Linked DNA regions of Homo sapiens: regions 2, 3, 4, 5, 6 and 7 are each linked to region 1. The links come from fine-mapping of genetic effects on gene expression. A gene starts in region 1. Each other region holds a variant in brackets. All regions are shown on one strand. Distances are between the middles of the regions.

Region 1 (4,064 bases):
GCCTTCCTGGAATGGGCGCACGCGAGGCACGGATTTCAGGAAACCTCTGCCGTGACAGCTCACCCACGGTGGAGGCGGAGGCCTGGGACGCTGGACGGAGAAAGGCGGCCAGTGGAGGGAGGAGGGGTAGGTCGGCAACGCGGTGGCCTCGGACGTCCGAGCTGCCCGGACGAAGCGCTGGCCCCACTCCCGCCCTTGGTCGCCGCGGTGACCCCACCCGAGCCGTGACCTCCCCCAAGATCTCAGGGCCCGGGCCTCCCCGCTGCGCCGGCCCCAGGGTGCCACCCTCGGACGCCCAGATGCGCCCTGGACCCTGCGCCGGGATCCTGAACACCGCCGCGCCTTCATCCCGCGCCGAGCGCGCCCGGCCCTGCTCCGGCTGCAGCGGGCACGAGCCCCAGGCGGGCGGCGGGGACGCAGCGCCCGCAGTGCGACTGGCGCAGCCGCTGAGGCACGGGGCGCGCCGCCCGGACCCCGACCCCGCGGCGCTAGGAGAGGCGCGGGCGCCGGCTGGAGAGCCGCACCTCCCGCCCCGCCGAGGCTGCTGGCCACGGGCGCGCTCGCCCCAAGGGCCGGGCGGAGGACCTGTCCCGGATTCCAGAGGACGTGGGTGGGGAAGGGACAAGGATAGGGACAAGGGAGGGGACGCGAACTGGGCCGAGGTGTGGGTCAGTCCTGGTTCGGGAAGGGAGGCCGTTGGCAGGGCCATCAGGATCCTCTCTGGACATGGAAGGACGGGTCTGCCCTGGACCCAGGGATTGGGAAATGTGGGTTCTCTCAGAACCTGGGGAAGTGGGGAGAGGGTCTGTTCTGGAGTGCGGAGGGAGATCTATTCCGGGCCCAGGACAATGGGGGTGGGGGCAGGACGGGAATGAGGGGGCATTCCTGGTGCAGGGAGGGGAGACGGAGAAGTAGTAGGGGGTCTGCTCCGGGCCCGCGGGCTGGGGACCACGAAGTGTAGGAGGGCACCGTCCAGGACCGGGATGAGGAGGGAGAGGGGCCCGTTGTGGCCCTGGATAGAGGGGGAGGGAAAGTGCGCCCCGGCCCGAGAGGAGGAGCAGGAGGGTCAGTCCTGGACCCGGGCTTAGGAAGCCGGGAGGGAGGTTCGGATCCGCCTCAGAGACAGGGCGATGAAGATCTGTCCAAGTCTTGGAGTGGAGGGAAGGATGTCGGCGGTGGGGGAAGAGGCCGGCCACGGACAGGGAAAGGGAGTCCGTCTTGTAGGGCGGACGGGCGGTCCTGGGGAAGGGAGAGGCCGCGACGCGGGGGGCGTCCGGCCCGAGCGGGGCCGCTCACCTTGGGTTTGTAGAGCCACTTTCGGAACCTGTTCATCATCGCCGCGCCGGCCCTGGCCGGACTCCGGGCGGCCCTCGCCCTCCGCAGCGCTGCGCCCGGGCCCGGCTGAGGCGCGGGGCGGACGCGGAGGCACGGCCGGAGCCCCCGCGCTGTCGCAGGGAGGCTGGCTAGCGAAGCCCGGAGCGCCGAGCGGGCGGCGGGCAGGTGCGCGGGGCAGGTGCGCGGCCCTGAGTATGCTCTGCAAGCGGCGCGCCGGGCAGACCTCAGACCCGGGAGTGGGCGCTCGGGCGCACGGACAGACGCGGGCACGGGGGCGCGCGGCTCCTCGCTGCTCACTGACACCCAGCGCTCCGCTGGTCACGGCCGCCCCGCGCCGCACATGCGCCTAGGGCGCCGCGAGCCCCGGGCCCACCGCGCGCTGCGGGCGGGGCGGGCGGGGCGGAGGCGGCCCAATCCCTGCGCGGGCGCCGCACCCCGCCCGAGGCGCGCTCCCTGCCGGCGGGGCGACCCGCCGCGCCCGGGTATCCAAGAAACTACAAGTCCCGAAAGGCATGGCGGGGAGGTGGCGCCCAGGGCTTGGCGTCCCGGGCCGCGCCGCGGCGCTGTGTATTGTGGGAGTTGTAGTCCACCCGATGGCGGCGGAGCGTGCCGCCGGTTGCTAGGTGACGACGCCAAACAGCCGCGGCGTCCTGCCTACCGGGAGCTGACGGACGACGACTGCCAACACCTTAGCCCCAGCTGGCCCAGGAAACTGCTGCGGTGGCAGGTGGCGGCGGCAGGAGGGCTCGGCTGCCCCGAGCGCCCGCCAGGTACGGGGGCGGGACAGGTGCGGGGCGACGCGCCGCCGATTTTCATGACCTGCCGGCCGGTTCCCTCTCGCTCGCTGCTCATCTTGCTTCTCCCAAACACCTCTTCTGTCTTCTTCCCAGCTCCCCGATGAAAGTGAACGGTGCCTCTTTTTTTTTTTTTAAATCACCACTATCAGCGGTGCGTTCTAAAAAGATACTCTTCCGCCCTCGCTACTCCCCCCAGTGGTGCCCTAATTTGTACCTTAAAACGCTCACCTCAATCTGAGTACCTGCTATGTGTCAAGCAGAGAGCTAAAAACCCACACGTGGCCTCACTTAAACTTCCCATTGACAGCCAGAGAAGCAGGCACAACGAGGCCGGCGTGCCCTGGCTGTGGGGGTTGCATCCAGATCACGGCGGATCTGGGTCGGCCTGACCCCACAGCGCTGCACTTTTCCCTGCCGCACCACCACCACGTCTCTGGCTTGTTGTGAAACGTGCAGATGTAAGACACAGGAGATGGAAGTCATGCCCCCCTCGGTTCAGAATTGAGAAGTCTGACCTGTTCCTGCTTGTCCTCACTGGCCAGTGCCAGGTGCTCAGAAAGGTCCGTGGGCTCCATGACCACTTTATTCCAACAGACGCGATGTGAGCCTAGGCGCGCTGGCATCTAAGATTTCTCTTAGTTGGGGGTAGGGTCCATGTTTATTTTTGAGTAACTGATTGATTTTCCCTACTCTCCTCTTCCTACCACCCAGTCGACCCTCTGAAGGGCAAAACCCCTCTGGAGTTTCCCCTTATCTCCAATTCCTTCCCACTTGTTCTTTCTGGAAACTACTCCCATCAGATTTTCACCCAACCACTCCTCTGAAGCTCTTTATCAAAGTCATCCTTGACCTTGATGTTGCAAAATCCGATGATCGGGGTCAGCGCTCATCTCTTCCTTGAACTGTCACTACCACGTGACCCAGCCGACTGTGCCCTCTCCGTGACACAGCATCCTCACTTGGCTGAAACAGATCCCACTGTCCACTTCTCCTCCTCGCTCCTGGCCACTCCTGCTTGATCTCCTTGGCTGGATGCCTCCCCTGCTCACCGACCTCTCAACACTGGAGACCCTGGACTCAGTCCTTGGAACCTACTCTATCCACTCCCTCCCTGGGGGATTTCCTACAGTTACATGGTTTTATAAACAACCATTTTCTCCCAAACTTCTCAAAACCTATATCTCTAGCCTCAACCCTGAAACTCCAGACCTGTTTACCTGTTCTTCACCATTTGGACGCCTAACAGATCCTCTCAAATTTAACGTGTCCCAAACCACACTCTCAGTCTTCCCCCATAAAACCTGCTGCTCCCAAAGCCATCATTTCTTCAGCACAGGATCTTGGGGTAGACACTTGATGGGCTTGTCCACTGAGTGAATGGCTGTTCTCTGTGGGTCTATCCTTGGCCAACTCCAAGGCCTGGAGCAGTTGTATCTGCTCAGAGGCTCCCTTCCTGTGTTTTATAGTTTGAAATTGTGCATGGGATGAAGGCTGAACTTGGGGAAGTGGGGTATCAGTTAGGTTTAGCTGCATGTATTGAAAAATCCCAACATCACAGTGGCCTAAACAAGAATATTACTCATATTTTTATAAAAGAGGTCCATGGAGAGGCAATCGTGGTTGGTATGGCAGCCCTAAAGTCCTCAAGGATCAGCTTTTCTATCTGCCATTCACGTTTCTTCATGATCCAGGATGGCTGCCCACATTCCTGCCATCACCTCCTCGGCCCAGGAACCAGCTGCAAAAGAGAAGATGGATATGCCTCTCTCGTTCAGGGAGACTTTCCAGAAGTCTCACACCTTTCCACTTCTTGAAGGTGGTGGGAGAACTTAGCCACACAACCATGCCCCAGCTGCCAGGGAGGCTGGGAAATGCCATCTTTCAATTGGGCAGCAGTAGACCCAGCTAAAAATCAGAGTTTTCTTATTTGGG
Region 2 (4,064 bases), 80 kb before region 1:
GGAGGTGAGGAGTGAGGACATGAGGAGTGAGTAGGTGAGGAGTGAGGGGGTGAGGAAGGTGACAAGGTTTGGACGTCCAATCCATCATGCCAGAGCCTTCCAGCTTTTGTCCTCTGACAGTGACTTCACCTGCAGGATCTGACCTTCTGGCAGACAGAAAAGCGACCGTGGGGCGGTGGAAGGGGGCCGGGCAGAGGTAAAGGCAGGGGTGGCCTCTACCCTCTGCCCACCTGTGAGGAGAAGCCGGATGTAGTGTGGGAAGACACGTCTGGTGCCTTCCATCTGGGGCACTCCCGAGACACAGCAGGTTCCCCCAGAGCTGCCCTCTGCCCCGGGCCTGGAGTGAGGCAGGGACTCCCCAGATGCTGCCCCCAGCCCCTAAGCATCCCTGTGCTCACCTCTCCACCGTCTCGCAGAAGAGCACGATGACCTCCTGCTGCACGTAGTACTCCCTGGGGGACTTCACAGGCACCATGGCCGAGACGTAGCTGCAAACACATGGAGACCTGTGAGGCCGCACCTGGGCTGTGGCGGGGCCCCTCCAAAACAGAGTGGGGGGCATCTTCAATTAAAGCTGCAATGCTGGGCAAGGTGGGGGCGGGGGGCCTCACGCCTGTAATCCCAGCACGTTGGGAGTCTGAGGTGGGAGGATGGCTTGAGCCCAGGAGTTCGAGGCACCACAGCAAGACCTCATCTCTACAAAAAATAAAAAAGTCGGGTGTGGTGGTGGCAGGCACCTACAGTCTCTGCTACTTGGGAGGCTGAGGTGGGAGGATCACTTGTGCCCAGGAGTTGGAGGCTGCAGTGAATGGTGATGGTGCCACTGCATTCCAGGCTGGGTGACAAAGCAAGACCTTTTCTCTTAAAATACACACACACACCCTACACCACCATCCCATTTCGGCAGTTTCATAGTACACAGCTCCTGCCAGCCAGGCCTACCCCAGGCCTTCCCTTGAAACCCCAGCCCTGCCCATGCGGGACAGTTGTGCCAGCTCCCAGGGCTCACCCTGGAGCCTGACCACCCTGGACCCAGTGCTGCCCATGTGCGGGACCATCCCCCACCTTGGCACCAGCCTTAAGGGGCGAGAGAGAAACGAATGAACACGTGCACGGGTGGGTGAACAACCCGCAGCCCCACATGAACCTCCGCACGTGGACCTCCACAGCCACGGAAGCCAGCCCAGGCTGGGCACAGCGGCTTGCAGGAGGCCTGCCAGTGGCTCTGAGACGTGAAGGCTTGTCCAACCCTTCCCCAGATGAGAGCACTTTCTTTCCTTCTAAACCACCAACTCTAGGCCAGGTGCAGTAGCTCACGCCTGTAATCCCAGCACTTTGGGAGGCCAAGGCCAGCAGCAGATCACTTGAGGTCAGGCATTTGAGACCAGGCTGGCCAACATGGTAAAACCCTGTATCTACTGAAAACACAAAAAAATGAGCCAGGCGTGGTGGTGGTCACCTGTAATCCCAGCTACTTGGGAGGCCGAGGCAGGAGAATGGCTTGAACTCAGGAGGTGGAGGTCGCGGTGAGCTGAGATCGTGCCACTGCACTCCAGCCTGGGCAACAGAGTGAGACTCCGTCTCAGAAAATAAATAAATAAATAAATAAATCACTAACTCTAATTTTTTCTTATGGAAGCTGATTTAGAAAATTTGGGGAAGACAAGAAAATAAAACTCGACTGTCCGTGCTCTTGCTTCCTGCAGAGGACTGCCCTTAATGCATTGGTTGATCTCCTAGGGGCCAGTAGATTACAAGATGAAAAACTTATTAACTGAACCTCTGCGGACACCATCTGCCTCCGTGTTTTGTTTGTTGTGGTTGTTGTTGTTTTGAGATGCAGTCTCGCTCTCTCGCCCAGGCTGGAATGCAGTGGCTGGATCGCAGCTCACTGTAGCCTCTGCCTCCCGGGTTCAAGCGGTTCTCTTGCCTCAGCTTCCTGAGTGGCGCGCCACCAGGCCCGGCTAATTTTTTGTATTTTTTTTAGTAGAGATGGGGTGTCACCGTGTTAGCCAGGATGGTCTCGATCTTCTGACCTCATGATCCGCCTGCCTCGGCCTCTCAACGTGCTGGGATTACAGGCGTGAGCCACCGCACCCGCCTGGCTGCCTCTGTTTTCTTCTCACCTGTGACGTCTCTTCATCTTCCGAGGCATCATGCATGTCTGGCCCCTCGGGCCTCTCCAAAGCCCTTCCCCTGGAGGCCCACGGCGGCCAGATCCACACCTGTGTCCTCTGTGCTCACCCCACTCCCTGGAAAGATGCCCCACCTCACCTCCACGCTATGCTCTCCAGGGCTTAACCCCACCCACAGGCGGCCCTGAACCTGCCTGGCTCCTCCCTCTGTGGAATTTTCCAGCTTGAAGTATCAGGGTGAGCCCCGGAAGCTGGCACAACCGTCCCCCAGCTCATACAGCCAGGGCTGTGGACCCACAGCTGCAGTACCTGAGCTCAAACTC[T/C]GCGAACAGGACGTCGAAGTGCCTCAGCGCTTCCCTCATCTTCTCTGTGTAGGTGTTCAGGTCCCGCAGCGCCTGGTCACGGAGGGCGCCCCGCACGTCCTCCAGGCTGCGCGTCAGCTCCTTGGCCAGCGGGCGCATGGCCATGCTCTCCAGCTCCCGGTTCATGATGATGGAGCCGGCGGCCAGGCACTGCGGGAGGGGACACACTCAGGGAGGGGCCCGGGTGAGGGCCAGGCTCTCAGGGGTCGCCGACCCGGGGAACCTGACTGCGCACCTCGGGGCCCCTCTTCTCACCCCACAGCACAGGCCAGCTCGTGTTCCCGGTCCCCGCAGGAGGTTTTTCTTACATTCAGAGCAATCGTGAGGGCGATAACCGATGTCCCCCAATGTGACCCACGGGGTCCTCACAGGGCCCCAGGAGCAGGGAGGGCAGGGCATGGCAGGGCAGGTAAGGGCAGGGGAGGGGAGGGCAGGGGAGGGGAGGGGAGGGGAAGGTGGACTGAGGCCCTTGGGTCTGGGGGCTCCCTGCAGGAGGAACCCTGGTCATGTGACTCTTTTCCGCTCCCCGTCCAGGCCACAGGGATGAAGTTCAAGGAGCTTGGAGCTTCCAGGCTCCACAATCAGGTCTGTGCTCCCAGGGATGAAGCAGCCGGGCTGATCCGGGCCCGAGGTCCCCAGCCTATCTAGGGAGCCACAGACACCACCTGTCAAGTTGCTCACTGCCAGAGAAACGCAACCTTCCCCGGAACGCAGACTCATCAGTGTGAGAGTCCCTGGGCTCCTGGGCAGGTAAGGAGGGCTCCTCCGCACCCACAAATCCACCCATGTCTGCCCTGGGTGCTGCGAGGCAGCTCCCCAGCGTGCGCTCAGCAACTGGGAATTTCACCAAGCTGCCCTCTGGCACAGGGGCTGAGTCCAGGCCCTGGTAGACCTGTTGTCACAGGGAGGCTTGTCTAGAGGCCGGGGCCTCGCCAGGTTTAGGATAGAACCAATCCACCTGCTGTCCCCTCAGGGATGATCAAGTGATGCAGGACAAGAAGCCATTTCCCAGGTGACAGAATGAGACGGCGCTGATCGCCCAGGCCCAAGCTGCAGGTGGGCACAGAGCTTGGGGCACCAGGACCACACAAGGAGCTGTGCCCACCCCTGTGCATGCATGCCCCTGCCAGGCCAGCCGGGCACAGAACACGCTCCATCTCATGACTGCCCCAGGACCCACTCCACGGAGGTGGAAACTGAGGCTGGGGAGGAGGGAGAACCTGCCCGCGGGCCCCTGTAACTAACCCAAGCCTCGGCAGAGGACACCCCAACCAGGTGGCTCAGAAGGTGGGGTGGGCAGGGTGGACACAGGGACGGGGCAGCGTGGGATGAAGACTCCGCACCCCAGGGATTCCTAGAAAGGGGAGGCGGGCAGGATGGGGACGGCACAATAGAGAGGGTGGCGGTGTCGGGGCTGAGGTCAGGCTCGGGAGCACGGCAAGGGGAGGAGGCTGGGGAGTCCGCATGGTGGGGGCCTGGGGGAGACTGTTCCCGCCACCTTGAAGGGCACCTTCCTCTCGGTGCCTCAGTTTCCTGATTGGGAGATGAAGATGAAGATGACAGGCTA
Region 3 (4,064 bases), 42 kb before region 1:
GTGGCTTTCTCTTCTTATCCTCAAGCCCTCTTTTTACAGGAAAATGTTATAATTAAGTCATTCCAACTGATTTTAAGCAACTTTGCATCAGTAGGGGGTTAAGTTCTAACAAGGCCCAAATCACCCAGGGTCAATCAGCCGGGCCAGCATCGAAGGAGGCCCCGGTACCTCCCCAAGGGTTCTGCCGGGCTCTTCCCCCTGCTGGACAGCAGTGGCTCACACTGTGACCCCCAGATAAAGTCACGACTTGGTGACCAAACTGAATGAATCCACACCCAGCCAGGTGCTGGCTCATGCCCACTGACAAGAATGAGCAGCGGCTGAGCTCACTGCATTTGCTTGTGCTAAAGGACGGTGTGAGGAGGTAGCTTGCCCCACACACTAACCCCTCAACTCCTCCATGGACCAGGAGGAGAGGAAACGACGTGGCGCCTGCCCTGGGGGCGGGACACAGGACTGTGCCGCCCCCACCTCTTATCACAGGCTGAGAAAGCACCGCCCCACACACAAGGGGCATCCCACTGACAGCCTCCACCCCTCCCTTCTAACCCTACCATGTGGGGCGATTGGAGCCCCAGATTTCAGAGTTCACCATGAATGTGCAAGATCTCATAGTTTTCATATTGATTATATGTTAAAACAATATTCTGGTCAAATAATTTTTTTTTTTTTGAGATGGAGTTTCGCTCTTTTTGCCCAGGCTGGAGTGCAATGGCACAATCTTGGCTCACTGCAACCTCTGCCTCCTGGGTTCAAGTGATTCTCCTGCCTCAGCCTCCCAAGTAGCTGTGATTACAGGCGCCTGCCACCACGCCTGGCTAATTTTTTGTATTTTTAGTAGAGACGAGGTTTCACCATGTTGGCCAGGATGGTCTCAATCTCTTGACTTCGTGATCCGCCCGCCTCGGCCTCCCAAAGTGCTGGGATTACAGGCATGAGCCACCGTGCCTGGCCCCAAATAAAATATTATTAAAATTAATTTCACCTGTTTCTTTTACTTTTTTTTTTTAATGTGGCTACTAGAAAATTTCAAATTGGCCAGGCACAGTGGCTCAGACTTATAATCCCAGCACTTTGGGTGGCTGAGGTGGGAGGATCATTTGAGCCCAGGAGTTTGAGACCAGCCTGGGCAACATAGTGAGACCCTATCTCTAAAAAAAAAAAAAAAAAAAAAAAAAAAGTTTTTAAATTCGCCAGATGTATTAGTCCATTCTCACACTGTTATGAAGAAATACCTGAGACTGGGTAATTTGCAAAGGAAGGGGGTTTAACTGACTCACAGTTCTGCATGGCTGGGGAGGCCTCAGGGAACTTACAACCATGCAGAAGGTACCTCTTCACAGGGCAGCAGGAGAGAGAGTGAGTGCCAGCAGGGGAAATGCCAGACGCTTATAAAACCATCAGATCTCCTGAGAATTCACTCACTGTCATGAGACGAGCATGGGGGGAACTGCCCCCTTGATTCAATTACGTCCCATCAAGTCCCTCCCACGACATGTGGGGATTATGGGATTACAATTCAAGATGAGATTTGGGTGGGGACACAAAGCCAAACCATATCACTGGGTATGGTGACATGACCCTATGGTCCCAGCTACTTGGGAGGCTAAGATGGAAGAATTCCTTGAGCCCAGGAGGTTTAGGCTGCAGTGAGCCAAGATTGCACCACTGTACACCAGCCCAGGCAACAGAGCGAGACCCTGTCTCAAAAAAAATAAATAAATAAAATAAAAGTGTATACGTGTTGCTTGCACCCAAAGCTCTCACATCCTATTTCTATTGGACAGCACTGGTCTAAGACTTTACTTTTTTTTTTTTTCTGAGACGGAGTCTCGCTCTGTCACCCAGGCTGGAGTGCAGTGGCGCGATCTTGGCTCACTGCAAGCTCCACCTCCCGGGTTCACGCCATTCTCCTGCCTCAGCCTCCCGAGTAGCTGGGATTACAGGCGCCCGCTACCACGCCCAGCTAATTTTTTGTATTTTTAGTACAGAC[AG/A]GGTTTTGCCGTGTTAGCCAGGATGGTCTCGATCTCCTGACCTTGTGATCCGCCCGCCTCGGCCTCCCAAAGTGCTGGAATTACAGGCGTTGAGCCACTGCGCCCGGCCTAGGGCTTTACTTTTATCTCTATTTTAGGACACACATAATTTCTTAAACAATTATGAGCTAAACTCGCTGACATTTTATCAGTTTCCACCCTTGCAGCTGTTTCTTTTATCCCATCATCTTTCCTCCGAGTTCCCTTTTCTTGCTGATGTACATCTTATAATAGGAAATGTTACAACGAGCATCTGTAAATGGTTAAAAATGTTTGCCTGAAAAATGTCTTCATCTTGCCTTCTGCCCCTTCACTAGCAGTTCATTTGGGTCTAAAATTCGGGGCTGCCAGTCGCCTTCCCGCCGCACTGTGGGCTCATTCTCTATCTTGCGGCACTTGGGGTTGCTGAGAAGAAACCTGCGGGGCTTTTTCCATTTCTCGTAGTTACTCTGTCTTTTCTGTTAATTCTAAAGATTCTCTTCATCTTTGACATTCTGCAGCTTTACCACAATACATCTCAGTGTGGATTTACTCCCAGGTATTTCTGAACGATGTGAATATGTTCTCAGAACGGTGTTGTCAATTGACTTCATTATTGTGCAAACATCAGAGAATGGACTTCCACAAGCCTAGATGACCCCGCCTCCGACAGACCTAGGCTACATGGTAGAGCCTGTTGCTCCTGGGCCACAAACCTGCACAGCACGTTACTGTGCTGAACAGTATACTGTAGACAACTGTAACACAATGGGAAGTATTCGTGTACCTAAACAGAATAGGTACAGTCAAATACGGTTATCCTAACAGGCTGGGCGCGGTGGCTCACGCCTGTAATCCCAGCACTTTGGGAGGCTGAAGCGGGCGGATCATTTGAGGTCAGGAGTTCGAGACCAGCCTGGCCAACATGGTGAAAACCCCATCTCTACTAAAAATGCAAAAATTAACCAGGCACGGTAGTGCACGCCTGCAGTCCCAGCTGCCGGGGAGGCTGAGGCGTAAGAATTGCTTGAACCCGGGAGGCGGAAGTTGCAGGGAACTGAGATCACACTACCACACTCCAACCTGGGTGACGGAGCAAGACCCTGTCTCAAAAAAATAAAAAAATATCGTTATCATAACTTATGGGACCACCATTGTATATGTGGCCTGTCACATGGCCCATGACTGCACATTTCTTTATCCTACTTGGAACTCCTTTTATCTCAGAACTCATGTCTTTCTTCAATACTGGGAAATTCAGCTACCATTTCTTCAAATACAGCTTTTCCATCATTCTTTCCTCTCCACTCTCTCCCTGGGACTCCTATGAGACACTTTTTGGAACTTCTCCACTGAACTTTGATGCTTTTTCCTTCTTTCTTAGGGAAGCTGCCCGACTCCCGGCTGGGGCTGGTCCTCCTGTGGACTGTGAGGCAGCACCCTGTCATTTCCTCTGTACTGCTTTCCTGGATTGAGACTAGGTATTGATCCACCCCTGCTCCATCCACCCACCCAACCACGAATTTTGGAGCCAGCCAAAACGACTACTTGTTTTTGTTTCAGACCCGATACCCAGCCTTTCATTCTCCCAGGGCCTGCCACAGATCTTGATTATTCCCAAAGAAAGAAGAGGCAAACTGAAGCCAAATCAGAATCAAGGTCCACCTGCCCCTTCCCAAACCACCTTAGACTCCCACAAGGGTGGAAGCTGGTGCCAGAGGCTCTGAGCAGAGGGCTCTTCCTCTATGGGGTACATCTGCACCTGGATGTTTCTGGGCTCCAGGCATCCTGGTGAGCCACTGGGAAGGTGTCCAGAACTCCAGGGGCCTGGCTGTCTCATGACAGCAGGGGGTAGACGGGGGCTGGTCACATGGACAGACAGCATCTGAGAGTGGCCAAGCCCCCCAGTCTGCACCATGCTGGCAGCAGAACCCGTGCCAGAGAGCAAGGAGGTGTGGGCATTGGGGGGACCGCTCCAGGGAGAGACAGAGCCCTCAACAATCAAAGAAAGCAATGGGAGGGACTTACAGTTTCCTCATCTACCAAGAAAAG
Region 4 (4,064 bases), 88 kb before region 1:
AACTTGAAAACATTATGTGAAGTGAAATAAGACAGTCACAAAAGGGTAAATCCTATATATTAGGTTGGTGCAAAAGTAATTGCAATTTTTGCCATTAAAACCCTAAGAAAGGGTCAAAATGGCCAATTTTGTTATGTATATTTTACCACAATAAAGAAGAATGTTTATTGCTTTAATTTCTGTTTACAAAAGTTTTACCTATCAATGTTAAGAAACTCTGTAAAATAGAGACATACTATTTGATAACAGTTTTTGTGCTTAATACACTGGGGATGTTTTTGCATAGCATTAGGAGATTTTTCTCCATCATTATTTAAATGGCTACAGTATTGTTTTTAACCAATCCCTTAATTCTGGATATCCATCCCTTCTCAAATTTTTATGATTACAAGTAATACTTCGGGGATAATCTTTGTGGATATATATTTGTGCCCCCTCAGATCAATGCAACAAAATTCTGCAAAAGTCCACCACACTATGACATGACAGGCACTCAGGATGCATCCGTGAATAAGAGTTATAGTCTAGTGGGGGAGACACAAAAATAACAGAAATCCCATTTATATGAATAACCCAATAGCCAAATCTATAGAAACAGAAAATAGATTTGTGGTTCCCTAGGGTTAAGGGGCAGGATGAAGGATAATAGGGGGTGGAGGTGACCGCTCAGGAGTAAGAGACATCTTTGTGAGTAATGAAAATGTTATGAAATTTGTGGTGATGGCTGCACAATTCTGAATGTACCAAAAACGACTGTGCACTGTAGATGGGTGAGTCATAGGGTAATGAATTTTATCTCAGTAACATGGAAAAATAAATAACAGAGTAAGTCACGCAACCTGCTGGTGGGAGAGGGCTTGGGTGAGCGGTGCAGTGGTGGGGACATCGCAGAGGGAGGTACAGCAGGGAGTAGGGGACAGTGCAGAGGAGAGGACAGCACGGAAGAGGGGACATCATGGAGGGGACAGCACGGAGGAGGGAACATCATAAAGGAGGGGACAGCATGGAGGAGGGGACAGTGCAGAGGAGCACAGGGGAGAGGACATTGCAGAGGAAGGGACAGCATGGAGGAGGGGACAGCATGGAGAATGGGATAGCATGGAGAATGGGATAGCATAGAGGAGGGAACAGCATAGACAAGGGGACAGCATAGAGGAGGGGACAGTGTAGTGGAGGGGCCAGCACCATGGAGAGGACAGCATGGCCAAGAGGACACTGGAGCAGAGGGGACAGCGTGGAGGAGGAAACATCATGGAAAAGGGGACAGTGCGGGGGAGGGGACAGTGTGGCAGTAGGGATAGGACAGTCAAGGGGACCCTGAGCGAAGGGGACAGCATGGTGGAGACCCAGGGCAGCGGGTGCGTGGGGACTGGGGAGAGAGGACTGGTGTGGGCACGGTGCAGGCAGATCACGGTGGGAGCTCCGGCAAGGGTCTGAGCAGGGCAGAGATGACACCTTGTTTTGACACAGGTGGATGGGTGAGGGCCCCTGAAGAGGATCCGGCAACCATCCTGCAGGCCACGTGGGCGGTGGCTCCTGCACGTGTTCTGGGATGGGCTGGAAGGAGGGGGCTGGGGAGGAAGGCAGGGGTAGACGCTGGGATGGGCTGGAAGGAGGGGGCTGGGGAGGGAGGGAGGGGTAGATTCTGGGATGGGCTGGAAGGAGGGGCTGGGGAGGAAGGGAGGGAGGGGTAGAGGAGAGGGGCCTGGG[T/C]TCTGCACAGGTCCGGTCTGGGAAGCGTCGCACACACACAGCTGTGAGTGCAGACGGGCGAAGCCGCAGCGAGGCGGGCAGGCAGGTCTGTGCTGATGGGGACTGGGAAGTGACCACTGGGTCTAGAGGTTTTATTTCATTTCTTCCTTTAAAGGAACTGTTTTAAGGCCGGGGCTGGGCACGGTACCTCATGCCTGTAATCCTAGCACTTTAGGAGACCAAGGCAGGCAGATTGCTAGAGCCCGGGAACTCGAGACCAGCCTGGACAACACAGCAAGACCCTGTCTCTATTTTTTTTTTAATTAAAAAATAAAAATAAAAAGTTAAAAACAAAAAAAAGAAACTGTTTTAAGATAAATCCCCAAAAGTAAAACCAGTTTGTCAAAGAGTCTGAGCCTCGTGGAGACACTCTCCCCAGGACGCGTGTCTCAATCAGCAGGAGGGACTGACTGGATGCAGGTCTTAGGGAGGGGACAGGCTGAGGGGTGCAGGGCAAGTGGGGCCCCTCCCCTACGGCTCAGAGCAAGTCCCCACAGGGGTGACCCCCAGTTTTTGTCCTCACTGCCTGGTAAGGCCAGACCCCACCAGGCTGGGGACACCCTAAACAGGGGGAAGGGTGCCACCCAGCACTCCCTTCCACCTCCCCCTGCCAATCTGAAGGCCTCAGTTTACCACTGCCTCTGCCCCAGGCAGGCCTCCTCTGCCAGCCACAGAACTAGAGTTTTCTGCTTTCTTGTGTCACAGGTGAATAGCAGGCTCTGACCCTCGGGTGGGCTTGGTTCTGCCGCCTCCAGCTGTTGACCCCCAGCGGTGCCTTCGCCACTGGGAGCCCCTCAGAAGGGGACGGGAGCCTGGCCCGCAGCTCATGCTTGGTAAATGTGGCATCACTGTTCTGACACTGTGTGCTGGAGAAGGGACTGGGGCTCTCGGGCAGCAGCACAGTCACGGGCAGGAGCCACAGAGGAGCTCCACCCTCAGCTCCTGCCCCGCTCAGCACCCCTGCCTCCCCTCTGCTCTCAGTGTTCCCTGGGGGTCACCTGGGGGGTCCCAGGATGCCCACTTCACAGAGGCAGGATCCTGCGAGGGTGTGGGCCCAGGAATGCAGGCTAGAGGGGTCTTCATTTCTGCAGAAGTTCCTGCGGCCCCCTGGTCCTTGCTCGAGCCCTGGACTTGCCCCTGAGCATACACCACCTGCACCAACGTGCCCCTGCCTGCCACCTGCACAGCTCCCACCTCTGGGCCGGCTGCCCTGGGGAGCCTCTCCCTCACGCCTTCAGCTCCTGTCCACCCCATGGGGTCCCTGCACTGAGTCCCCCTTCCAGCATCCAGAACATTCCACAGCACTGTGGGTCAGCCCATCTGTCCATCTCCCTGGTACAAGCACAGGGCGAGGTATGCAGTAGGCACTCAATACTTGCTCACTGAATGAACACAGGAAGGAGCAGGTTCTGGGCCCCACCACGGGCAGCTGTGGCCTCTGCCTGTCCGGCTCAAAGCGGTCGCTGTGGATGACGAGGAACAAGACGGGATCCGCTGGTGGTGCAGGGCTGCAGGGCCCCAGTGAGCATCCCAGAGGGGCGGCCTTAGGAACAGCTGCCCACTCAGCACTCACCCGCTCAGCACTCACCCGCCCTGCTCGAGGCTCGCTGCACAGAGGGTTGCAGTGGCAGCCTGGTGCACCCCACGGTTCCTCGTATCCACAGCCTGGCTCTGTGGCTAGATGCCTGCCTCTGTGGGGGCTCACAGCTGGCCACCCCCCTGGACAGGCCTGCTCCCTGGACTCTGGCTTTGGGCTCTTATGCCCTCTCGCCCTTCCTCCCTCCTTCAATCCAAGCCCCCTTCACCTCCTGGGGGTCCCTCACTCCCTTTCCAGGCTCTCCCACTGTCCTGAGCCCGAGGGGACCCCACGCCAGTGCCTCCAGGAGGGGACCCGCGGGACAAAGCCTCTGCCAACAGAAGCTCCAGCCTCCCTCCCCAACCTCCCTCCCTTGGCCTCCCCCGCAGCACTGGCCTCCCCTGCTGCCCTTCCCTGACCCCCCCTGCTGCCCTTCCCTGACCCCCCACACTCCCCCACCTCCCTCCCCAAGCTGCCCCCCCACCTCCCTCCTCTGGCCTCCCCTACCCTGATCCCCCAGCCCCCGCCTCCCCTTGCCTCCCAGGATGAAAGCCTAGGACAGAAGGAGGAGCAGAGGTTTGGCCACCAGCAGGTGGACTGAGGTCGGCAAGCAGGACACAGATGATACTGGTTGGGGGAAGTGGCTGCTGTTCTGCGGTCGCCTGTACTCGGGCAAACACGGGCAGCAGACTCAGTGTGAAAGTCCCGAAACACAGTATGCCTGGGGTGCGGCCTGCGG
Region 5 (4,064 bases), 120 kb before region 1:
CAGAGGACCAGGTAGGGGGCGTGAGGGAGAGAGGATGGTGAGGGGCTCCTTCCATGTAGCCGCAGCTGCTTGCAGGTGGTGCCCTTGAGTGGATGGTGATGGTGGGGAAGGATCAGGGTGGCAGATGTCGCAAGAGGTGCGGGGTGCGGTCCAGAGGCTAGGGGAGAAGCTGTGGTCACCAGGGAACAGAGGGCCTGTAAGGATGGGCCCTGGGTGGGGTCATGAGGACATGTGGGGGACCTGCGGTAATGACCATCCCCTCAGCCAGGCCTCCCCGAGAGCACAGCCAGGCTGGGGCCTTCTCTCCAGCTCTAGGCCAGCTGTGAATTGGGAGGAGGCCCATCTGCAAGAAGGGTGGCACCTCCTCCCAGGACTTTGCTGGCCTGCGTGCCTACTGCATCCAGGCCACCACTCAGGGCCTTGCAGGGCGATCACTGTCCCTTGTGGGGTTCTGGTGACACAGGCATCACCGAGCTTGCTAAGGTTTCATGCCTGGGGCCAGCGAGAGCAAGAACCCAGCCCTGCCCTCTCACCTGGGCCTGTGCACGGCGGACCAGCCCTGGTCTTATCCCCGACTCACCGTGTCAGCCCAGGAGGCCCCGTCACTTATAAACGATTGGCTTAATGACAGTCATTACACCTAATCTGTTTTTCAAGAGTCTAATTAATTCCAAGTCCTCCTCTATTTTTAAACCCCTCAATCATTCTTGTTTTTCCTGCCAGGGGCATGAAGTGGGTGGAAGGTCTCGGTGTTCCCTGCAGGACCTCGGGACACCTGCTTTAGGGACCAATGGCTGCAGCAGCCTAGCAAGCACCTGCCACCGGGCCCCAGACAGTCTGGGGGAAATGGCAGCCGTGTGAGCCTCCCAGTGAGGGGGAGGGGAGGCCCGCGGGGCGGCACCTGCTGCTCAAGGTCACAGGCACTGGAGCAAGGCCGGGCTGCCTCAGTCCCAGACCTGTCACTCCGTCCCCTTGTCCTGCAGTGGGTCCACTGGGGAGCCCCCGGATCCGGAGAGCCCCCACAGCCCAGCAGCTCAGCCTTCTACCTGGAGGCTGCCTGTGTCCTCTGAGCCCCCAGAAGAGCTCCACACTAGGGCCGGGCCACTGAAGGCTCTGTCAGCCCTGACTGCGCTGCAGGGAGGGAAGCGTGGGCTTCCGGGCCACCGAGGCCACAGCACCGCATGGCCCTTGGTTGAGGCCCCACCCAGGGAAGGGGCTGAACACCTGTCTGCTGGTGGGAAAGCCGAATGGTGGATGTGGGAACGAAGCACATCAGAAGTGCCAGCCCAGCAGCAGGTGACTCCCCACGCAGCGGCGCCTTCACTGATGTGCCAGCTACAACCTGCCCTCCTCTGGGCTGCGCACCGGGAGCCAGGCTGGGGGCCACAGGACCCTCTGTGTCATGGCCTGGAGGGGCCCAGGAGGATTTGCAGCAGCGACCTCACCATGGGGCAGAGGGTCAGCAGGCCCGGGAGAGCTGCAGCCACCTCGGGATAGACCGGCTGCAGGCTCTCCTCCGTGACACCTCTGAGCCCTGTCCTCACACTGGCAGAGGGCAGAGGAGCTTGGTGGAATGACCCCAGGCCACACGGAGGAGTCGCCAGGTGGGGCGCGGTGGGTGGATGTTCAAGCTGGAGGCCAGGACCCACTGTCCGGGAGCGAGGTCATGAAGCGCCACTGCAATGCCTGATGCCACCCGGGATAGCTGTCACCGCCAGAAGAGCGGGGGACAGAGATGTGAATCCAGGAAACAATGAAATCCAGAGGCAAAGCCAAGACTGATCATGGCAAAGATGGCCAGGAACAGCTGCAAGCGCAATCTGGGAGCAAGGTGAGCAGTGACAGTGGGGTGACACGGTGATATAGCGACATGGTTGGCTGTGCTGGGAGGAACGGCAGAGGACGAGCAGTGACAGTGGGATGACACAGTGACACAGTGACA[C/T]GGCGGGCTGTGCTGGGAGGAACGGCAGAAGACGAGTGGTGACAGTGGGGTGACACGGTGACACAGTGACACGGCGGGCTGTGCTGGGAGGAACGGCAGAGGACGAGCGGTGACAGTGGGGTGACACAGTGACACAGCAGGCTGTGCTGGGAGGAACAGCAGAGGACGAGCAGTGACAGTGGGGTGACACGGTGACACAGTGACACGGCAGGCTGTGCTGGGACGAACAGCAGAGGACGAGCAGTGACAGTGGGGTGACATGGTGACACAGTGACACGGCAGGCTGTGCTGTGAGGAACGGCAGAGGACGAGTGGTGACAGTGGGGTGACACGGTGACACAGTGACACGGCGGGCTGTGCTGGGAGGAATGGCAGAGGACGAGCGGTGACAGTGGGGTGACACAGTGACACGGCAGGCTGTGCTGGGAGGAACAGCAGAGGATGAGCGGTGACAGTGGGGTGACACGGTGACACAGTGACACAGCGGGCTGTGCTGGGAGGAACGGCAGAGGATGAGTGGTGATGCGTGAGGAGTGCATCCTGCCATGTAGCTGGGGCCTGCTGTTGGTCCGTTTTGCATATGACAAAACTGAGGCTCAGGCTGAGCAGTCGGTTCACCAGGCACTGCCTTTCCCCTCACATCTGCGTATGGAGCAGGGCACTCCCCACCATGACTCCAGCGATTCCTCTAAAAGGGATATCCCTCAGTGTCTGTCATCTGTCTGCCACTGCCAAGTTCCGGAAGGAAGGCGCACACAGGCGGGGCATGTGCCACAGGGTTGGGGCAGAGGCTTGGCCACTGTCTGTCCTGAGAAGCCTGTGAGACTCCTACCATTCTACCTAGAGCAACGGCCAGAGAGGATGCTGAGCACGGTGGACAAGTGGCAGGGAAGGGAGGACTCAAGTACAGTCACAGAGGCGCCCGACTGCACGACGGAGCAGGCCTGGCCTTGCCCCCGTGGGACGGACAGTGACAGGCTCTGAGACCTCCCTAAGCCAGCGCCCGGGCAGCCTTGACCGTGTGTCAGGACGGCCACAGCCTCCGTCAGTCCCACTCTGATGCACAGAGGCCCTTGCGCTGGTTCCAGCCTCCTCCCGACTAGTCATCGGGGCTGCAGGATTGATGGCAAAAAACAAAACCCAGGCCACCAGAGATGAGAAGAACATTCCCCGGCCCCACCACAGAGGAGCAGCGCGCCTCGCACCACACGCGATCAACCAGAAAGGCAGAGGAACAGACTTGTTTCTAGAATTTCTATAAACTTAATTACACAAGATAAAATTGAGGACATCTGCAAATCAAAAGACATTCAAAAACAAAGTCAAAGGGCAAGAACAACTTGGAGAAAGCCACCAACAGACCAGACGGAACATTTTCAAGTCCAAAAAGCGTGACATCCCAGCTGAAAAACAGCAGAAAACACAGTCACTTCCCAGAACGAAAAACGCAGGCGCTAACAGAACAACTGCCCAGGTTGGCAGTGATCAGAGGGGGCAAACCTCAGGAACAGCGAAGGGTACTCCGTTTTTCCCCCTCAAGTTGGAGTTGGAAGTGTTGGCGAGGGATGGCACTGCTGGGGGTAATCAGCTCTTTCTGGAAAGCAGTTTGACAGTGAGTGGCAGAGCTTTAAAAGGCTTCATACCTTTGCTGTGGTGATTCTACTTCTAAGGACCAATTCTAAAGAAATAATCCAAGGCTGGGCACAGCGGCCCACACCTGTAATCTCAGCACCTTGGGAGGCTAACACAGGAGGACAGCTTGAGCCCAGACAGGGAGCTGTGTTTGTGCCACTGCACTCCAGCCTGGGCAACCAAGGGAGACCCTGTGGTTAAAAAGAGAAAAGAGAAGGAAGGGAAGGGAAGGGAGGGGAGGGAGGGAGGAAGGAAAGAAAAGGAAGAAAGAAAAAGAAAAGAGAATCCAAGAGGCAGACAAAAAACCATAGAGGAAACTATAAAACCATGTTCAGTGGAAAAAAAAATAAAACTGTTCATAAGATTTGGGGTGATATTTATTTCCTTATTTGTTTTGTTTTTTAAAAAGATAGGGTCTTACTCTGTCACCCAGGCTGCAGTACAGTGGTACAGTCATAGGTCACTGCAGTCTCCACCTTCTGGGCTCAAG
Region 6 (4,064 bases), 57 kb before region 1:
GCTGGGGAGCCAACCCTTGGCCAGACCCCTCCATGCTGCAGTGCCATGCAGGAGGGCCTGGGAGCCCTGACATCCACTTAGCAAACCCTGCCAGGTAACCCTCCTCCAAGGTAAAACCTCAAATCTGTGGGCCTGTACAACTCTGAGGAAGCTGCTCTTGGGGTGGGCTCAAGCTTCCCTGAAAGACCCTGGGGACCCCCATCCACCTGGAAGGACAGCCCCCTCGGGCCCTGGACCTGAGCCTCGGAGCCTTTACCCACCCCGGACAAGCGCACGGCGTCTACAACAACCTGCGAGGCCATTTGTGGTTCTCTGTGATTTGAGGAGGCCTCCATGATGTCTAGGGGCCATGGGCTCTGACGGTATAATTGCCTGCGCGTGGGAAAGGGGCATCCTGAACAGCGTGTCCAAAGCCATTGCCCCCGAGAACAGGGAAGCTCCGAGTGTCTTCACGACCACGAGGAACAACACTCACCACACCCCGCCCCACACCATGCCATGACGGGCACCACAGTCACACTGCTGACTTGGCATCAGTGCCCACAAGCAAATACCCTGCCGCTGTACCTTGATTTCAGTAAATTAAAGACCTTAAAACCAGACCTACAAAGGTGTTGACCATCTGCAAAAAGAGAGCTGTAATCACACACACACACACACACACACACACACACACACACAGGCACGCACGCACACACAGAAACCCCGTGCTATTTGAAAAGCTGAGTTAGCCCCTGAGCTAGCGTCCCGGCCATTCAGGACCAGTATTTCAGAGGAAGAGGCCAAGTTTCCCACATGGTCCCAGCAGTGCCTGGGGCGGGAGCAGGAGGGGTCTTTATTCATTGTGTCAGTCATCCCACCCAGACCCCTCACTGTGAGCAGACACCTTCAGGCAGGGGTCCCAGGAAATGAATGAACACAGCTTACAAAATTCAGTCTATCCTGATTAACAGAATCCAGAAGAAAATTTGGGGTACTAAATTTCCATTTCTAAGTATGCAGAGTATAAAGCAAACAATTATAATCTCAACCTACTCATCACTTAGTGTTAAATCTGTCCAGCACGACGGGGCTCACCCTCAAGTGAGCCTGCGGGCCCGACAGATAAATGGGGAGGGGCGGTTAATGTTCCATCACTGACAAAGCATCTCCCTTTGATTTGAATCCACCAGCTTTATTCAATGACATTTTACAATTTCATTTTAAATTCAGTTTTTAAATGTCCTTAAATACAATGTCCACAATAAAGGGAATCAATTGATATAAATAGGAAGTACTCACTTGTTAAAATTTTTGAAATAAAAATTGTAAAAGAATAAATTAGAACCTAGTAGGAAGCTCTTTTAAAATCACACTACATCAATATTTTCTCAAAGATAAATTTTCTCAAAGATAAACAGTGAAAGTGTTCACTGTTAAAAGGAGTCAAACCCGTAAAGAAGGCATTTCGTTCACGGGGTCAGATGACTACTGAACGGACATCCTCAAAAAAAGCAGGAGAAAATATGCACGAACAAAGCAGCTCTCGGTTCAAAAAATACAAGGATGGACTGACTCTGGGCTAATTTTGTAAAGCTGATTAAACTGTTAATTCATTCGAGCCCCTGGTCCCTAATGTGAGCTGTGGCTGCAGGTGGGAGGTGCGGGTTGGAGGCACGTGCAGGGAGAGAGACGCGGTGCGCACGTGTGAGCTCAGCCCGTCTGACCCACGTGTGATGACCCTGCAGTGTTTCCCAGCAGTTACGAGGGCTGGCCACCGGGCTCAGAGTTTACACGCACTACCCCACCCACTGGGGCAGGCCCCAGCCACCTTGAGGCCCAGGAGGGCTGGGGCTCCAAGCCCTGCACAGGGCACGGAAGCACAGCCCATCACACCACGCCTTCCACCCAGACAAGGAGACTGACACTCCTGAAGGTAACTCATGGCCAAGACCACATCGCTGGATGCCAAGGCGCCAGATCTCAGCCCAGGTGTCACTAGGACTCTCTGGCATCTATGTGCGGTAAGGGGGTAAGGGCCCAGGACTGGATCCCTTTCACACTCTTGTTTGCCAAATATGACATAAATCCTGCAGGTGGGGACCTTAAAGAGACACCTTGTCACTCCAGGGCAGCAGCATCACAGTCTTGGCCGAGCTGCGGCAGGGAGGATGGGAGCAGGCAGGTGGCGGGACAGATGGGAGGACAGGCAGCACAGCCAGGCCAGAGAGGACCAGCCCCGCCCCATGGGCCCCAACAAGGGACGGAAGCCCAGTCCAGCTCCTACTGCCTCCCTCCCCACACAGCTGAACCCAGGACATAAGCTGGGCTCTAAGCTCCAGTTCCCAAGACAGACCACCCCAGGCAGCCAGCTCCCTACCCCTACAGCCCCCACACTCAGCCGTGGAGACCCAGGTGTGTTTGCCTCCTAGATATCAGCAGATCTCCAGGAGACAGTGGTCACATGCAGACTTCAGCTGGACAGAGGCT[G/A]GAGCATGCAGGGGTGAGGACCAGGTGTCTGAGGCACCGCCTGGGCCTCTCCAGGGCCAGCTTTCCATTAAAGCCTGGGACTTCTCGCTCCAGCACCAGGAATCCAAGAGCATCGCAAAGAAGCCAGGGAAGAGCCTCTGCCTGGGACACACAAATGCGGCCCCACAGCTGTGACCCCCACAGCAGCTGTTCCTCAGCCCTCACCATGACCAACTAATGGCCGAGCAAGCCCCTCCACCCCTCCACCACTGGGGCTAGAATTGTTCACTGCTGCCAATCACAGGCCCAGCCCCTCCTGCACATGCCCAACCCCTCCTGTCCGCACTGAGGCCAGACGTCCATGGGCAGCCATGACCCATGTCCCCAAGGCAGGCCTCATCCACAGCAGACACCCCAGGGGCTGCCAGGCTGGGGGCCCACTGACCTGGCAGCACCACCAGCCACCGGCAGCAGATCTGGGGCCCCAGACAGGCACACACTCCTGTGGTCCCAGGCACAGCCGTGCTGCCACACCCACCCCAATGTTACTATTGTTGCTACTGTCTCCCTCCCCATCCATCTGTCCCCTTTCTCTGCCCTCCTCTGGGGTCAGGGAGCTGCAGTGGGCACGCTGGGTCAGCAGGAGGCCTGGCAGGGAGTGAGGATGGGACGGTCCTGCTCACTTCCTGCCTTGGCCTCCTGCGGACCCCACCCACCCCTGCTCTCTCTCAGGACTCGGTACTGGCCCTCCCTGTGGCCTTCGGGCCCACACGTGGCACCAAGCCCTGGGCTCATCACCATCCCCGTGGTCCCCTCAACCCCATTACATGGTGAGTGTCCCCAGCACAGCCTGACCAGGGAACTGCTGAGACTGCTGGCTACTTCCTCCGAGACTCAGAAGACCCTGGCAGTTCTAGGGCTTGGTGGGTGGGGGCTGGACACAGTTTAATCCCTCATATGACCGTTGACCGGTCACCTGTGAGAGTGGCATATATGTCACCCAGCTCAGGTCACCTGTGGGAGTGGCATAGCTCAGATAATCCCTGCAGGAATGTTCTCCAGGGGGCCTGGGATCAACCCAGCACTCCCAGCTTTCTTGCTTGCTGGTAGAACGTGCTGAGGACGCGGCATCCAGAGATAGGGAGGGACTGCCCAGAACAGCCTGGAACTTGTCCTTGACCCTCCCAGGGACTGTAACAGCTTGAGTTAGGGAGGAACCGCCTGGGCTTTGCTTCTTTCTCCCTGGAAGCAGGGTGTCCTTCAAAGCTTTGCCCTGGGGGTCACGTGGTCCCTGAGGGCTCTAACCTGCGGCTGCTTGCAGGGCCCTTTAGCCCTGGTGCAAAGAGAAGCATGTGCAGTCAGCAATCCATCTGCCCTGGGCAGCCTTCCCGACACTGGGGACTGGCTCTGTCCCTTGCTTCCTATCTGTAAGTAATCAACCTGTGTTGCGTAACTTGTATGTGAGCATGTAGGTCACCAGCGCATGGAGGACTAAACAGTAGCCCAGGATGCAGTGCCCACAGGCAGAAGTTCCTGGTATTTGGCTATGACGATCTTTGCTGTTCTCCACGAAGTAGGAGTCTTCTCTTGGGACTGGTAATTAGCGAATCTGCTTT
Region 7 (4,064 bases), 34 kb before region 1:
TCCTAGTCTCAGGTATGTCTTTATCAGCAGCGTGAAAACAGACTAATACTCCTTTCCCTTAGTGGCAGCGCACTTATCCCAATGCCCAGGATGACCTGGGGAATCAAATGCTGCTTTCGGTCACCTCCACTGACCCGGTATCTTCTGTTAAAATGCCTTTATCTTTTCATATCACGCTTCAAGTGTCAAAGCCTTGGCACCATCAGTGCAGACTGGAGTGAATGGCAGGCCACACACTGGAAGGAGGAGGTACGCTTCACATTGGTTGGGATTTTCCAGCAGGCCTTCCACAGATCTAGAATATTCTATTCCTAAGAGACCCTGACAGACAAGGCTAAGGGCCTTTCTCTGTGTGTGGTGTCGCTGGCGTGTGTTACAGACACTCGCTCTCCAGGAGCCATCTCCAGGAGCCATTCTTTCACAAGACTGGAGAAAATGAGGTCGTCACACAGGGTCATCACTCACAGTCTCTCTCAATGATGCCCTGATGACCTAAGATGTCCCCATCACCCTGAAGTGTCTCCACTGGGGCTGTTCTGCAAAGAAGGGCCTTGAGGAAGACAGGCAAGAGGGTAGGGCACATGTCCCACACAGGCAGAGTGATTTTTGGACTGGGGTACACAGAGTAGATGCAGTGTTGGGTTCCCACATTCTACCCACAGGGAAGAGGCCCCCGGGACTGTCAGCCAAAGTCAATGCCACAGAGCCCTCTCCTCCCCGGGTACTTCGACAAACGCTGAGGAACCGAGACTGCACTGCTGACAGAAGAAACTTTCTGGAAGGAATTCCCTTTATCTGCGAAGAGGAAACTGGTTTTGTAGGAAAGTGTGAAAGCTTCTGTACCCTACAGATTAAGTTATTCAAGAAGGGTCAGAGGGAAGTGACCACCCGCCAAGGGAGTGAACAAGTGCTCAGGGCTGCCCAGGGTCACTCCAGCTGCCTGGTTTCCCAGGACAGGGCTGTGACTGACCACTGGAGGGGGCACAGGCAGGCCACCAGGACCGTGACAAATGCAGTTTGGGAGCAGGAGTGAGTTTAAGCAAGAACGAGAGGAGGGGAAGGGACCAGGCAGCACCCAAGCAGGAATCTCCTCCTGAGGGAGTGCTGGATGGGGTGGGGGAGCAGAAGCACAGAGGGCCGACCCCTCAGGGCCCGGTGGGAAGGTAGGTGGGGAGGGAAACAGCCTTACCTGCCAGGATCATAGGGGGAGCATGGAAACACACAGCCAAGACTTGTGAACAAATGAATGACTGAATTACTTCAGAAAAATCTTTATTTAATTCAGCATAGGAAAAGAAGACAAAGGCCAGGAGCCACCTCACTCACCTGGAGTGTGAGACACCTGCCCAAGCTTCAGCCCACTCTGCACAAGGAGTCACACAGAACTCTTGCCTTTTCAAGATGTGACGGAGACAGGCTCAGGTCCTAGACTTGGGGGGAGGGGAGTGTAGGGCAATCATCTGTCCTGATTTTAAGGATTATCATAAACACACCAATCCTGTACACCCTCAAGGAGTGCAGCAAAGTGATAAACAGAGTTTGTAAAAGGCCTCACCTTTGAAGCCATGCATAAGCAAACCTAGCTGGCCTGACCTGCCCAGGACTGGCGAGAAGGGGGACCAGACTGGAAGGCCAAGTCACTCAGGGACCCACCTCATCACAACTGCAGAGGCTCTCTGGGAATACACCCGCACTGCTGCCACCCCTTCCCGTCAGTGGCTTCAGGACAGACAGACCTGGGCCATGGAGGAGCACAGTGATGACCCTGGCCTGTATGGTGGCTACTTACGGTAAGGGAGTGGGCCAAGAACAGCAGCAGAAAAAGGTGAGACCCACCTGAAGCAGGCCCCAGCGCTGAGAGAGCACCTGCTGCCCTTACAGCCCCAGCGCTGAGAGAGCACCTGCTGCCCTTACAGCCCCAGCGCTGAGAGAGCACCTGCTGCCCTTACAGAGCTGCTGTCTCCTGACCCCGGCCTGCCAAAGTTGGGATTTGAGACTAGGTCTCTGGACTGTCAGCTGGGACCCTGAGCAACGCCAAGCAGCAAAGCGCCCCTTTGTTTCTGCAGCGGGTCAGACCTACATGGTTGCCTACATGGCCTCCCACAGGCTTCGGACAGCAGAGAGGGCACCCACTGCCTGCATCTGAGCCTTTGCCCTCAGGGCTGACCTCTGACCTCCTACATGGATTCCCTCCAGCCCCATTGGCTTGCCTTC[T/C]TCAGGACAGCACGGGGCAGATTTCCCTTCTCACAAAACAAAAAAAACAAAAAACACACCAGGCTTTCACAAGGCGGGACTTGACACCCTCTCACACCCCCACTCCAGTGCTCCCAGCTCCTTGCTTAAGAGCCGCAGACAGGCGCCCTCACAGGGGACCCATCTGGTTCTCCGGGAAGTTAAAATCACAATTTGACTTTGTCAGTGGGTCCTGAGTTCACAAAGCGGAGTCTTTGAGGGTCCCCTACAAGCACTGCACCGGGCTCGCTCTCATCCCAGGGCAGAGCCAGCACAGAATTTAATTTTCCATTTGCAGACTAATCCCAAATGTCTCTTTTCTGTTCCCACCAAAAACCCCACAATTTCTTCCCTTCCCTTCCCTGCTGGTGTTCACTCCCACGGCTGCAGCAGCTGGCTTTCCACTCAGACAGGGCTATGGTTTGAATGTCCCCTCCCAAATGCACATGGAAGTAAATCCCCAAAAGAACAGTATTAAGAGGTGGGGCTGGCTGCACGCAGTGGCTCATGTCTGTAATCCCAGCACTCTGGGAGGCCAAGGCGGGTGGATCACCTGAGGTCAGGAGTTCAACACCAGCCTGGCCAACATGGTGAAACCTCCTCTCTACCAAAAATACAAAATTTAGCTGGGTGTGGTGGCGGGCACCTGTATTCCCAGCTACTCGGGAGGCTGAGGCAGGAGAATGGCGTCAACAAAGGAGGCGGAGGTTGCGGTGAGCTGAGATCTCACCACTGCAATCCAGCCTGGGCAACACAGGGAGACTCCATCTCAAAACAAAAAGAGGTGGGGCCTTTAAGAGGTGACTGACTGTCCTCATAAATGAATCCAGCCGTTTGTGGACTGAGGGTCAATGAGCCATCACAGAACGGGGCTGTCATAAAAGCTACCTTGGCTCTCTCTCCTAAGCCCCCTAGCCACGTGATGCCCTGGGACGCCTGGGGTCTCCAGAGTCCCTCCAGACAAGGAGGCCCTCACCAGACCATCCCTGTGACCTGGGACATCTCAGCCTCCAGGACTGTAAGAAACCCAAATGCCTTTTCTTTATAAATGACCCAGTCTCAGGTATTTCATTAAAGCAACAGAAAACAGACTAAGACAGGCGCTTTCAGCAGTAAAACCCCGCTGCGCGCCTGCTGAGGCCATGCCCGCCCGCCTGAGGTGCCAGCCAAGCTCGCTGCCCTCAGCTCGCCTCCCGGAGCAGCCTCCTAGTCCAGTCTTGTCTGGAAAGAAACCCCGCTGGCCCCCGGCAGTCAGGTAGCACGGGCAGTAGGGCTGAGGCCCCAGAATGGAGATCTCCGGACACAGCCAGGGGGTTGGACGGCTCCGCAGACTGCAGGAGACTCCGGGGCCGGGGCCGGGGCCGGGGCCACTCCCTGGAGGAGGGGGCTGAGCCAGGATGGAGAGCGGTGCCACAGTCCGTTTGCCTGCAGGAGGAGGCTGGCCCACCCCGGAGCTCGCCACCAGCGGCCTAGGGTCCCCCAAGGCTCCTGGCAGTCCACTGGGAACCCGGAAGCACAGTCCAGCCTAGGGCTGCGTGGCTCTCCCCTACCCATCCCCTCAGCCAGGGCCACCTCTGCACCTCAGTCTCATTGGGAAGGGAAACTGAGCTTCACGGCCGGAAGTGACGCAACTCTGCTTGCCCGTCATTGGCCAGAACCCATCACTTGGCCTGCTTGCCCTCCTGCCGGCCGGAAGCAGGAGACCCAAGTCCAGGCGAACGTGACGTCCTTGTCCTCGTGCTGTGCCTGGGGGTAATCTGCCTGTCAGGGATGTGCCGCCCCACTTGGCGAGCAGCTGCGGACACGGGATATGGGGCCAGGAGCAGTGCTGC

The links. PIP is the estimated chance that this variant, and not a neighbour inherited with it, causes the effect. A credible set is the group of variants that fine-mapping cannot tell apart.
Region 2: its variant is the best candidate, but not a certain one, in a credible set for the expression of ZFYVE28 in pituitary (GTEx, PIP 0.54).
Region 3: its variant is the best candidate, but not a certain one, in a credible set for the expression of ZFYVE28 in skeletal muscle (GTEx, PIP 0.85).
Region 4: its variant is the best candidate, but not a certain one, in a credible set for the expression of ZFYVE28 in whole blood (INTERVAL, PIP 0.75).
Region 5: its variant is the best candidate, but not a certain one, in a credible set for the expression of ZFYVE28 in pancreas (GTEx, PIP 0.52).
Region 6: its variant is the best candidate, but not a certain one, in a credible set for the expression of ZFYVE28 in whole blood (TOPMed, PIP 0.87).
Region 7: its variant is the best candidate, but not a certain one, in a credible set for the expression of ZFYVE28 in cerebellar hemisphere (GTEx, PIP 0.64).

What each region holds. Positions count from the first base shown.
Region 1 is chr4:2,416,989-2,421,052 of GRCh38, forward strand. ZFYVE28 (zinc finger FYVE-type containing 28) reads right to left here and starts at 1,657. Exons shown (of 13, transcript NM_020972.3): 1 at 1,297-1,657. The coding sequence starts at 1,335. It overlaps CFAP99 (cilia and flagella associated protein 99), which reads left to right and starts at 1,967. Exons shown (of 16, transcript NM_001193282.4): 1 at 1,967-2,105. RefSeq lists an enhancer at 1-376 and silencers at 1,382-1,541, 1,662-1,891, 2,132-2,181.
Region 2 is chr4:2,337,009-2,341,072 of GRCh38, forward strand. ZFYVE28 (zinc finger FYVE-type containing 28) reads right to left here. Exons shown (of 13, transcript NM_020972.3): 4 at 2,445-2,647; 5 at 399-488. LOC124900649 (a long non-coding RNA gene) reads left to right here and starts at 2,760. Exons shown (of 2, transcript XR_007057991.1): 1 at 2,760-2,906; 2 at 3,032-4,064. RefSeq lists an enhancer at 2,405-3,094. The variant T/C (reference allele first, on the strand shown) is at 2,459.
Region 3 is chr4:2,375,219-2,379,282 of GRCh38, forward strand. The region is part of intron 1 of ZFYVE28 (zinc finger FYVE-type containing 28); the gene reads right to left. Among named protein-coding and RNA genes, the nearest start is that of ZFYVE28, 41 kb to the right of the region's middle. The variant AG/A (reference allele first, on the strand shown) is at 1,994.
Region 4 is chr4:2,329,478-2,333,541 of GRCh38, forward strand. All of the region lies in intron 6 of ZFYVE28 (zinc finger FYVE-type containing 28), which reads right to left. Among named protein-coding and RNA genes, the nearest start is that of MXD4, 69 kb to the left of the region's middle. RefSeq lists enhancers at 1,437-1,936, 2,251-3,048, 3,049-3,846, 3,837-3,916, 3,847-4,064. The variant T/C (reference allele first, on the strand shown) is at 1,711.
Region 5 is chr4:2,295,835-2,299,898 of GRCh38, forward strand. All of the region lies in intron 8 of ZFYVE28 (zinc finger FYVE-type containing 28), which reads right to left. Among named protein-coding and RNA genes, the nearest start is that of MXD4, 36 kb to the left of the region's middle. RefSeq lists a silencer at 2,381-2,480. The variant C/T (reference allele first, on the strand shown) is at 1,943.
Region 6 is chr4:2,359,747-2,363,810 of GRCh38, forward strand. All of the region lies in intron 1 of ZFYVE28 (zinc finger FYVE-type containing 28), which reads right to left. Among named protein-coding and RNA genes, the nearest start is that of ZFYVE28, 57 kb to the right of the region's middle. The variant G/A (reference allele first, on the strand shown) is at 2,470.
Region 7 is chr4:2,383,482-2,387,545 of GRCh38, forward strand. All of the region lies in intron 1 of ZFYVE28 (zinc finger FYVE-type containing 28), which reads right to left. Among named protein-coding and RNA genes, the nearest start is that of ZFYVE28, 33 kb to the right of the region's middle. RefSeq lists an enhancer at 3,502-4,016. The variant T/C (reference allele first, on the strand shown) is at 2,215.